3 linked regions of the Homo sapiens genome follow. The protein of the gene in region 2 purifies or fractionates together with the protein of the main gene of each other region. This does not show direct contact. Each region holds a gene or a part of one and is shown on either strand. Other genes may lie near its edges. The genes, in order: MYO5C, SPDEF and MACIR.

The links.
Region 1: the proteins of SPDEF (region 2) and MYO5C purify together in Homo sapiens (affinity purification with mass spectrometry; 3 studies listed by BioGRID and IntAct, with this or other methods). This does not show direct contact.
Region 3: the proteins of SPDEF (region 2) and MACIR purify together in Homo sapiens (affinity purification with mass spectrometry; 3 studies listed by BioGRID and IntAct, with this or other methods). This does not show direct contact.

What each region holds. Positions count from the first base shown.
Region 1 is NC_000015.10:52,226,077-52,229,901, forward strand, and holds part of MYO5C (unconventional myosin-Vc), read right to left. Parts: intron 3,238-3,825; coding exon 3,057-3,237; intron 541-3,056; exon of another isoform or gene 422-540; intron 1-421. UniProt on the Homo sapiens protein: May be involved in transferrin trafficking. Likely to power actin-based membrane trafficking in many physiologically crucial tissues.
Region 2 is NC_000006.12:34,542,730-34,546,329, forward strand, and holds part of SPDEF (SAM pointed domain-containing Ets transcription factor), read right to left. Parts: intron 1,756-3,600; coding exon of another isoform or gene 1,727-1,755; coding exon 1,291-1,726; intron 1-1,290. UniProt on the Homo sapiens protein: May function as an androgen-independent transactivator of the prostate-specific antigen (PSA) promoter. Binds to 5'-GGAT-3' DNA sequences. May play a role in the regulation of the prostate gland and/or prostate cancer development.
Region 3 is NC_000005.10:103,261,732-103,265,556, reverse strand, and holds part of MACIR (macrophage immunometabolism regulator), read right to left. Parts: intron 1,664-3,825; exon of another isoform or gene 1,551-1,663; intron 1-1,550. UniProt on the Homo sapiens protein: Regulates the macrophage function, by enhancing the resolution of inflammation and wound repair functions mediated by M2 macrophages. The regulation of macrophage function is, due at least in part, to its ability to inhibit glycolysis.

The sequences.
Region 1 (3,825 bases), on a different chromosome or scaffold from region 2:
TTACATAAAGAAAAAAAAATACCTACTATAAGCTTGGGGTGGGGTGGGACAGGGGGAAGACTGAGAAAGGTAAAATCACGGGCTAAAATTCTCTTTTAATGGATAATAAAATATTGAGTGCAAGGACATGGGCAAAGTTGCCACCTTCATAACTGTGGGTTTTGGCTTCAGCTCAGCTTAGATGTGGAGCAGTGGCAGAGACTGGTGAGTCCAGGAGGTCTGGGAGTTAGCTGGCTGTTGGGAAGGAGGTGGCCTGGGCAGCTCTGGTTGTGGGGAAGAGGCAGTATTCTGCCTTTATTCTCCCTTGTGAGCTCAGCTTGAATAAGAATCACAGGTCTGTGCTTTTGCTTTGTATCTGAGGGAGATATAAGGACTTTCAGGGACAGCAGAGGTGAATAAACTCTCCTTGATATTTTTTCAGTTACCCTGAGTATTTAAGGGCTCCAGCCCCTGTTTCTACAGAGAGTAAGCAGGAGAATCAAACTGATATGTGCTGAGCACTTTACCTAGAAGACCTAATCCTCCTAACAGGCCTATGAGGTAAGTAGAGTGATCTTTTCTCAATTAGCAAACAGCAGCTACATTTAACTGAAGGCTGACTGGCACGTTCAGGGTCACATGCCAGGTTTATGGGGGACTCAGGACTATCCAAATCCTGAAGGCCATGCTTTTCTTTGTAATGTTTCAGTAAATGTTCCAAGTCAGATTTGCATTTACTTAGGCTTTTAAGACTGACTATAACACATATAACTTGATGATCATGAGTTATTTTCTTTGAAAACCAGAGTAGGCTGGGCACGGTGGCTCACGCCTGTAATCTCAGCACTTTGGGAGGCTAGTGCGGGTGGATCACCTGAGGTCAGGACTTCAGGACCAGCCTGGCCAACATGGTGAAACCCTGTCTCTACTAAAAATACAAAAAAAAATTAGCCAGGTGTGGTGGCAGATGCCTGTAATCCCAGCTACCTGGGAGGCTGAGGCATGAGAATCGCTTGAACCTGGGAGGCAGGTTGCAGTGAGCCAAGATGGTGCCATTGCACTCCAGCCTGGGTGACAAGAGCAAAACTCTGTCTCAAAAAAAACCCAAAAAACAAAACACAAAAACCCAGAGTAATTTTTTTTTTTTTTTTTTTGTTGAGACGGAGTCTCACTCTGTCACCCAGGCTGGAGTTCAGTGGTGCAATCTCGGCTCACTGCAACCTCCACCTCCCAGGTTCAAGCGACCCTCCTGCCTCAGCCTCCCGAGTAGCTGGGACTACAGGTGTGTGCTACCTCGCCCGGCTAATTTTTTTTTTTTTTTCTAGTAGAGATGGGGTTTCACCGTGTTAACTAGGATGGTCTTGATCTCCTGACCTCGTGATCCGCCCACCTCAGTCTCCCAAAGTGCTGGGATTACAGGCCTGAGCCACCGTGCCCAGCCCCAAGTAATCTTAATGGATCACATTGGAGAGTGAACCAGTCTTAGCTACCAAAGAGGAAGTGAGTGACACCTACTGGTACCTCTCTGCAAGCGCAGTCTCACAAGTTCCTACATTTAAGATACAGACCTCAGACCTCAGCCAGATGACAGGACTCCCACAGACTGACTGACATCAGGCTCATGTGGCTGCTAAGAGTGAAGCAGTCACAGGAATGAAAGTGACCCTTCCTGATCATGTGGTCTGACCTCCTACTTTTAAACAATAGGGGACGGGGCCCAGAAAAGACAGACACTTCAGTTGTGGAATTCAGTGGCCACCCGGATGCAATTCCAAAAGCTCTTCTAAACCACGCATGGCTAGTTCATGACAATTACAGAGACTATTTCCATAATCCTACAAATACTCTACTAATATGTATTTCACATATTTAGTAGAAGCTTAAAAGCTTTCCAACTTAATGATGAAATGTCTTACATTTAAGAACGTAGGTACACTCAGGTTTAACTTTTCTGGTAGGGAAACAATTCACTTAAGCCTTGATTGTCCAAGCATGGATCATTACTTCATCCATTCATTCATTTTTCTCTAGAGCATTTTATTAAATTGCCCAGGAATATTTATATATTTTTAATGATAGATACAGGTAACAATTTTTTTTTTTTTTGAGACGGAGTCTCGGTCTGTCACCCAGGCTGGAGTGCAGTGGCGCGATCTCGGCTCACTGCAACCTCCGCCTCCCAGGTTCAAGCAATTCTCCTGCCTCAGCCTCCTGAGTAGCTGGGATTACAGGCACCTGCCACCACGCCCAGCCAATTTTTGTATTTTTAGTAGAGACAGGGTTTCACCATGTTGGTCAGGCTGGTCTAGAACCCCTGACCTCATGATCCACCTGCCTTGGCCTCCCAAAGTGCTGGGATTACAGGCCTGAGCCACCGTGCCCGGCAGGTAACAATATTTTTATATATCATTATGCAGTTTTAAAAATTCTATGTGATTTTTCCTTCTCAGCTTTATAAAAATTTACTTAAAAATTTCTACCATTGAAAATTTATAGCTTTATTGATGTTATAATTTATGAATATATTGTGGAATAATTCAAGCTGATTAACATGTTATCACCTCAAATACTTGTCATTTTTTGTGGTGAGAACATTTAAGATTTACTCATAGCAATTTTGAATGTACAATATGCTCTTATTAACTACATTCACCACACTGTGCATTGGATAATTGTTTTAGTAAATTTTCTAATAACAGTTTAAATGAAAGATTTTGATAATAAGGTAACTTAACTTTAATGCAGGTGTTTATAGATTTATAGTGATGGATTATATAATAAGGATTCACCTCAATTTACAGTCTAATTTGGGAGTATTCTCTACATCGACATATTTAAATAACTTTACATAAATGTAATTTCAAAAAAGTTAGAAAGTTGACTTTTAAAATATGGAATACAATGATTGCTAAATCAAAGGCAGCCTGGAGGTGCACAGTTGGAAGGACTGAAGGAATCAGGCTCCAGTTGCCTGTGGCCTTTACACAGATGCTTTTAGCTGTCTAATCTGTGGGAACTTGGAATTGCAATCAAATGACGTAACCAGAGGGCGGGGCTGAACGTGAGAGCCGCTCTACCTTGACCTGCTTGCTCAGGCGGGCCACTTCCGCCTTCAAGCCATCAGAAGTGACGTGCTCCCCCTCCACCAGGTGTTGGAGTTGCATCTTCTCATCCTTGAGAGCTTTAATTTCTTCTTTCAAAGACTGAATCTGCTTCTCATAGTCTTGTGTTTTCAGTTCAAAACTTTTTTCAAGAAGCCTACGCAGCAAAAGAAGAAAATAATTTAGAGCTGAGCATGGTGGCTGAAACCTGTAATCCCAGCACTTTGGGAGGCCAAGGCAGGCGGATCCCTTGAGCCCAGGAGTTCAAGACTAGCCTGGGCAACAAGAGAGACCCCGTCCCCACTAAAAATACAAAAATTAGTCAGGTGTGGTGGAGCACGCCTGTAGTCCCAGCTACCCAGGAGGCTGAGGTGGATGAATCGCTTGAGCCCAGGAGGTCCAGGCTGCAGTGAGCTGAGATCGTGCCACTGCACTTCAATCTGGGTGACAGAGTGAGACCCTCCCCACAACACCCCCTAAAAAAGAAGAAAATAATTTAGAATTGTCTCTACAGTCTTTACTTTGAATTAGAATACATCATTTTGAAAACAACAAGAGGAGACAAGTTAATTAGAACCTACTGTGACAGTTCCAGCAGGTAATGGCCTTATTTTTAGCAAACTGTTTCCTCTTCCCTTAGGTTAAAGACAACTTCTTACACCTCCTGATTTGAAAGGTGTGGCTTTACAGTGATCACGCACAGGGCACACTGGCTAGGGAGGCTGAACTTAAAAGACACACTGGG
Region 2 (3,600 bases):
AAATATAAAAATTAGCAGGGTGTGGTGGCAGACACCTGTAATCCCAGCTTCTCAGGAGGCTGAGGCAGGAGAATCGCTTGAACCCAGAGGCAGAGGTTGCAGTGAGCTGAAATCACACCACTGCACTCCAGCCTCAGTGATAGAGCGAGACCCTGTCAAAAAAAAAAAAAAAAAAAAGAAGAGGCTGGGCGCGGTGGCTCACGCTAGTAATCCCAGCACTTTGGGAGGCCGAGGCAGGCAGATCACGAGGTCAGGAGATCGAGACCATCCTGGCTAACACGGTGAAACCCTGTCTCTACTAAAAATACAAAAATTAGCCGGGTGTGGTGGCGGGCGCCTGTAGTCCCAGCTACTCGGGAGGCTGAGGCAGGAGAATGGCTTGAACCCGGGAGGCAGAGCTTGCAGTGAGTGAGCCGAGATTGCACCACTGCACTGCAGCCTGGGCAACAGAGCAAGACTCCATCTCAAAAAAAAAAAAAAAAAAAAAAAAAGAAGAAAAAGAAAAAAAAAAGAAATGCTTATTATTGAACAACTGTCTATTGAGCATCAGTTATATTCAAGGTGCTATCCTAGCATCTGGGGATGGATTGATGAGCAAAACAAATGAAAATCCCTGCCTTTGTGGAGTGTACATTCTAGTGGAGGACACAGAGAGTGAGCGAGATCAACAGATATGGTGCGGCACGTCCGAGGAGTGTAAGTGCTATGAGAGGAAGCAGGTGAGAACAGCAGGTAGGGATGTGAGCAGAAATTTTTCTTCTTTCTTTTATTTTTCATTTTTTTGTTTGTTTTCTTTACCATGTCCTGTGCTCATGGGCAGCAATTTTAATGGAGGGGTCAGGGAAGGCCTCATGCGGATGGTGCCATCTGAGCCAAGACCTGAAGGAAGTGAGTCACACAGATATTTGGGGGAAGAGCGCTCTAGGCTGAAGAAGCAGCAGCGTAGCAAATGTTGTGGGAACAGCAAACAGGCCAGTGTGGCGGGAGCAGAGTGAATGAGGGGAGAGCGAAGTCCAAGAGGAGGTGGGGGACACAGAGCTTGAATTCATATCATCCAGCACCTACCAGTGGGGACCCTAGGCTGGCATGGTTGGGACACTAGAGGTGGACAGAAACCTTCCTGGCCCAGGCTCACAGCTGACTGTGTGTAGAAGTGCCAGCATCCCCAAAGCTGCCCGAGGCTGGGCCAGAGGTGGCCAGAGTCCATCCAGCAGTGCCCCGACCCACCCCAGCGACCTCAGCCTTGCCTGTGACCCATCTTACGGAAGCAGGCACATGGAGAGGGCTCACCTGCGGTGATGTTGAGCAGCTTGCAGGCCGTCTCGATGTCCTTGAGCACTTCGCCCACCACCATGGACTGCACCTGCTCCAGCGAGTGCTCCTCCAAGGTCAGCCCGCCGGGCACCAAGTCCAGGCTGCCCGCTGGGGCTTGGCTGTCAATGACCGGGCACTGCTCAGGCTCCTCAGGTGGCTCCTCCCGACTGCTGGCCCCAGGGGCCTTGGCTGCCCAGCTGCTGTCCTCAGGGTACAGCATGTCAAAGTAGGAGAGGTAGAAGGCGGACAGGCCCTGCTCGGGCGTGGCGGGTGGACTGGGACTCCAGTCCCGTCTCTCGAGACCCACTGCCCCCGCTGCCGCCTTCTCCAAGCCTGTCCGCGACACCGTGTCGGGGGGCAGCAGGAGGTGGCTGGGGGATACGCTGCTCAGACCCGGGCTGGCGCTGCCCATGCCGCTGCTGTTTGGGCTGGCGGCTGTGTCTACGGAAATGAAAGAGGACTCAGGTTTGACTGCTTCTCCATCCCTGTGGGGGCCGCTAAGCTGGTTATGGGGATGAGGGGCCCTGTGGACAGTGGGCTGGGCCTGGGACAGAGTTGGGGGCTTCCGGGTCATTGGGCAGCCACGACATGGTTGGGCAGACAGGCCTTCTGGCTGGGAAAGACAGCGAGGTGGGAGTGGGTGCAGGACTAGAAATAGATCGCTCCCTCAATCCCCAAGGAAGCCAGGCTGGCTGGGAGCAGCAAAGCTCCACACATGTACTGTGCTTAAAACAGCCTTCTGAGGTTCCTGACCTCATTCAGCCCTCACAATGGAAGGCATGATTGCGCCATTTGGCGGATGAGCAAACTGAGGTGGGAACAAGGGGCCCTCAGTGTCCAAATCTTTCCTGATATAGCAAAGCTTGTTTTTCTTCTGCCTTTGACAAGGATAGGAGTGGAAGTGGCAGGCAGAGGCCACCATCCTAAAGGTGGCTATCATCTTCACCAGCAGGGGAAAGACGAGAGGAACAAGGCGGGGTAGAAACCCTCCCACACGCCGGGGAGTAGGCCAGCCCTTGCCCTCCCACAGGGCTATCTGGGGGATCTAAGTAAACTCAACACTCTCAAGGTGGCCACTGAGCAAGAGCTCACAGGTGTGTGTCTCCCAATACCCCAGGCTGGGTGCATGGTACCCACCTCCCCTTACCCTCCCTCAGAAGGTGCTGCCCCCAGGGCCCCTTCCAGCTCCCAGTGCTCTCTACTTTCCCCGATGCCTGGAGGAGCATGCGGCCACCCGGAGGCAGTGCCACATGCCAGGCTTTCCAGGAGGAGCCAGGGTGGTTGTGAGATGGGGCAGGGCTCCAGGGAACACCTAAAACCCTTAGCAACTCAGCCACCTGCTCCTCACTGCTGCCCCAAGGCCCTCCGGGGGAACCATCTGGCCTCAACACAAGCAGTCAGAGGCCTTGCTCCCCACGGGCCGCCCCGGCTTGGTTTTGCCCAGGCCCTTTTCCCTGAAACCAATAGCAGAGTGCACAGTTTGGGTGAGAAGGGGGACTGGAGAGGTGCGCAAGCACTGAAACCCCAGGACATTCTGGGATGGCAGTGATGTGGGGGCCTGAGACTTAAGAATACATCAAGACAGGCTCAGTGCAGTAGCTCGTGACTGTAATCCTAGCTCTTTGGGAGGCCGAGGCGGGCAGATCACCTGAGGCCAGGAGTTCGAGACCAGCCTGGCCAACATGGTGAAACCCTGTCCCTACTAAAAATACAAAAATTAGCTGGGCAAGGTGGTGGGTGCCTGATTCTCCTGTCTCAGCTACTCGGGAGGCTGAGGGAGGAGAATCACTTGAACCCAGGAGGCGGCTGCAGTGAGCCGAGATCGTGCCACTGCACTCCAGCCTGGGTGAAAGAGCAAAACTCCGTCTCGAAAAAAAAAACAAAACACACGCACACACACACAAAGAATACGTCAAGCCAGAGGCAGAAGATTACCAACAGATATACGCTCCTAATAATACAGAGAACCAGTTAGGGAGGAGGAAAGGAACAGATAAACCTGTTAAGGGCAAGTTAATTTGTGTCCTTTCTCGAGGGTTATTTATAGTTTCAAGCAGTGGTTCTCCAAATGTGCCGTCTGGGCCAGCAGAACCAGCGCCACCTCGGAGCTTGCTAGAAACTTGAATTCTCAGGCAGTTCACAGCCACTGAATCAGCAGCTCTGGGGGAGACTCCGCAGTCTGGTTTAACTGGCCTCTGGGTGATTCTCGTGCATGTTCAAATTTGAGGATCTTTGCTTTAAAGGTAACTGGCCAGTTGGGGGGAAGGCTTTAATCAAAGCACTGAA
Region 3 (3,825 bases), on a different chromosome or scaffold from region 2:
TGGAAAAAAAATAATGCTTAGGCTAGGATCAAAAGCACAGGCCATAGTTCCTAGCTCTGGCCTTGCCAAGAACTCTGCCTCTTGACCCTGCATAAATATCAATCTCTAAAATGTGGACCGTAATAACCCCCCTTCCTCCCTAATACAGTTGTTAGATGGATCAAATGAAATGAGGTAGGTGAATGCTTTACATGCTGCAAAGCTCTTTACAACGTGTGATGCTATTATTATGCAATTAATTTTTGGTATCGACTCATTGTAGCCATAAAGCAGCAACAATGTAAATCTTTCATAAGACTGATGCGAGGCAAATGATTAGAAGTCTCTTGGATAACACAACAAAAAAAGAGAGTGACTGAAAAAGCACTTTTTTATAGTTACCACCTTACTTAAGGTTTCTAGCATCTCCTCTGTGCCTTCCCTCTCTTACCTGGGAAGTTAATGTGTAAGAGAATCTATCTTTATCTCCTACCTCCCTAGTTAATAGGGTTAATTTGCTGAGACGAGGAAAACCCTCCAAAGTCCTTTTCCACCTGTAAAAGTTTCTTTGGTTGTTGGTTTTCTGTTGGGTTAAACAACAGAAGCAGTTGGAGGGGTGTCAAATGAAGCGAGTAGATTCATTTTATCTATGTAGGTGCACAGAGCCCAAGAAGTGTCAACAGTACAATACCTTATCAAACAAAAGACAAACTGCAAGAAAAAAGGCAAGGAGTTTGTAACTTTATTACTTTCCCTACCAGTACAGGAGAGTTTTATCCAAAGGAAATAGATAATTACTGAGTTTAATATGTGCTTCTTTAGCTTGAGAAACTGGAAGGAGCCAATGCACCAAGAACTGTCACTCCAAGAAACTAGCATGTTTATCAGCCTTTGCAACTTCTTCAGATGTAGATAACAGAAACACTCCCTTTCATGTATTTTGCCACCAACTATTCTCAAATTGGGGAACCAAAAAATCTTGAAAAGTAAGCCTTGATTCTACCCCACCAATGAAGCCTCTGGTTTTAACACACAGTAAATTGTAACAAAAATTGTTACCTACAGACAAAATGTTTATTTAATATAATTATCCCAAAGAATTTCCCCAATACTAATAACATTCATCTGCATTTCTTATTTAATGGATTTTTAATGGGAAAGAGGAGTTCTAAAAACGAACATTTCTTTAGCATCTTCCTTATGTCAAAAGTGATATACAATTTATATCATTTAATCTTAACTACTCCATGAAGAAAATATTATTATCCCATTTTTAAAGTACTCTTTAGTAGTAGCCCTATTTTAAAGTACTCTTTTAAGTGATACTACATGAGAGTCACAGCAGGAATTGGAACCCCAATTGGTCTGACTCCAAAGATCATTTACTTTACACTCTGGCCTCTGTTCAATGATAAGACAACATGTATAGCCTTTTACACAATAATCATGATCCCGCAAAATGTATATCAAGTAATTTCTATAAGTGAAAATCTATTTTAAGTGTATGGGTAGGCACTTTATCTAAAAGCTTTATTGCCTCATTTGTGAAATGGTTGGGGGAACTACTTAGCTGCATGGTTATTTCCAACTTGAAAAATATTAAGATTTGGTGGCACATCGTGGAAAGTCTTATACAAAATCCTTCTGAATCATGGACTCTTTCTCCTATGAGCTTCTATTTTCTAAAATCATAAATTATGCGACAGAAAAAAAGGTATCAACCAATACCGTCTGGTTATATGGTTGGATATCAAATACAGTTATATATTTCCGCTTTATTTCTCAAGACTACATCTATCACAAAGTGGGATAGATTTCATTTATACTTTTATAAATGTCAATTTAAAACAAGCAGGAGGAACATTAGAAATATCTGAATGTCTTAATCCTAAAGAATAGTTTTGACAGTCTTAAATCTCATTCAAACTTTCATATAATTTGCCTCATGTATTTGGTGACATATTCTTCTTTTTAAGCTTTTAAATGCATTAGAAAAATATTTACACTTTCAAAGAGTTTCTTTTTCAACATCAAAAGAAAGAAATCAACTAAAACTTTAGTCTGGATTTGAAAGCAGAGGAGCCTTGAAGACATTACCCAACTCTTGCACTGGAGCTGATGTGTAAATCTAGGAAATGATCGGTAATTTCATAGTAAACAAAGAGTAGTAACTGATTATTCCTATTATGCCAGTGCCAAGCCAAAAATAGAATATAAACACAATGTCCAAGGGAGCAACACAAGAAAACCAAGGTGCAGAAGCTCCATTACATTCTCACTTTTTCTAATTTTGACTCTGCTTCCTGCTTTGTGGGAGGAGGAGGAAGAGCAGGAGGAGGAGGAGGAAGAGCAGGAGGAGGAGGAGGAGGAGGAGGAGGTATATGGTGAAAAAGAGGGAAAAATAAATAAAAAGAACAAGACCAGAAACTAACTAGTATAAGATTATACGTTTTCTTTAAGACATAACCCATAAAGAAATCTACTACAAAATTACAGTAAGGGTTCTACCCCCATCTCCCACTTATAACAATTAAAAGATTGTAATATAAAAATTCCCAAAACATGTACCTTTCAAATAACACACATTTTTAGAATACTTTAAAAATCTATAATTCTCTAACGCTTGCAACTGATTTTGGCCAATGTTCTAAACACTGAAGGCTTGGAAAGATATCAACAGATTTCCTCTCCAAAACAGTCAGCAAGAGGAAAAGGAATCCATGTGAAATTCTTAGAAGATAGACTAAATGCTGCATAAAAACAAAGACTGAAGTAAATAGAGCAAAGGCTACAAGATATAATAAATGCTTCCAGTTATAAGAAGCTGAAACAGAATGCAGTGGGACATTATCCCATAAGCAATAAAAATAGGAAAAAACCAAGCAGTGGCCAAGAGCTGCCCACAGACTTCTGGATAAGAAAGTCATGGGTGACTAAGCAAAAGACACCCAACATTTCACTGCAAGTGGAGCTTCTACAAATAGAAAAGTTTGCAAACATTAACTACCAAATGTATCGAATTTCTCAGGTGATAGTTATTATCACAGGTAAATAAGAATGCCTTTCAAAAGAAGAGTGACTATATATCTCAATTCATAGTCAATACCCTGGCATAATTATTGAAAGCAACCCCCTTTAACTCTCAAAAGTGTCTCAGTTTGGCTGTTTCATTTGTTATCCTACTCAAAAGCAACATGGAAAGGCAATGACTTTTTTAAAAAGGGAAACACCCTTCTGCTTGAACGGTGAATTCCCATACAGGTCTGAGTTCTTTCTTCGGGTGTACCCACTTAGATATTCACTTATTCAGTCATTCAACAATGTTTCTTAAGTCTTATTATATATCCCCACACTATGCAGGCACTGGTGCACATATAAAGAGATGGCCTGAGACTGGGTCAGAGGGGAGGGCAGACATGGAAATAAATCCTTCTAATAACAGTAAACCTGAATGGCACTAGGAACCCAAAAAAGGGAGTGCCTTTCCCAAAAATATACAAAGCTCCATTTGGAAATGTTTATGTCCATACAAAATTCGTAAACACACAAAAAAGTCGTGAATCTCAAGCTTCAGCACAGATCACTAACAAAACAGCAGTAAGAAAAAATTTAACAACATTGATCACAAATCATAAGACTATAAATATGAGGACCAGCACATAGCCCTTTCAAATATTGGTAAATAAAAATCACATTCATCATTAAAGTTTATATTATGAAAGGACAAATTTTAGGCAGAGAAATTGGTACAGTAGAAGCTGTGAGTTCTAATTCTAGCTATCAAAACATTTATTTTCATTTTTTTCATGGCCCTAACCTGAAGCCCACCAAAACATTTTCAAGAAA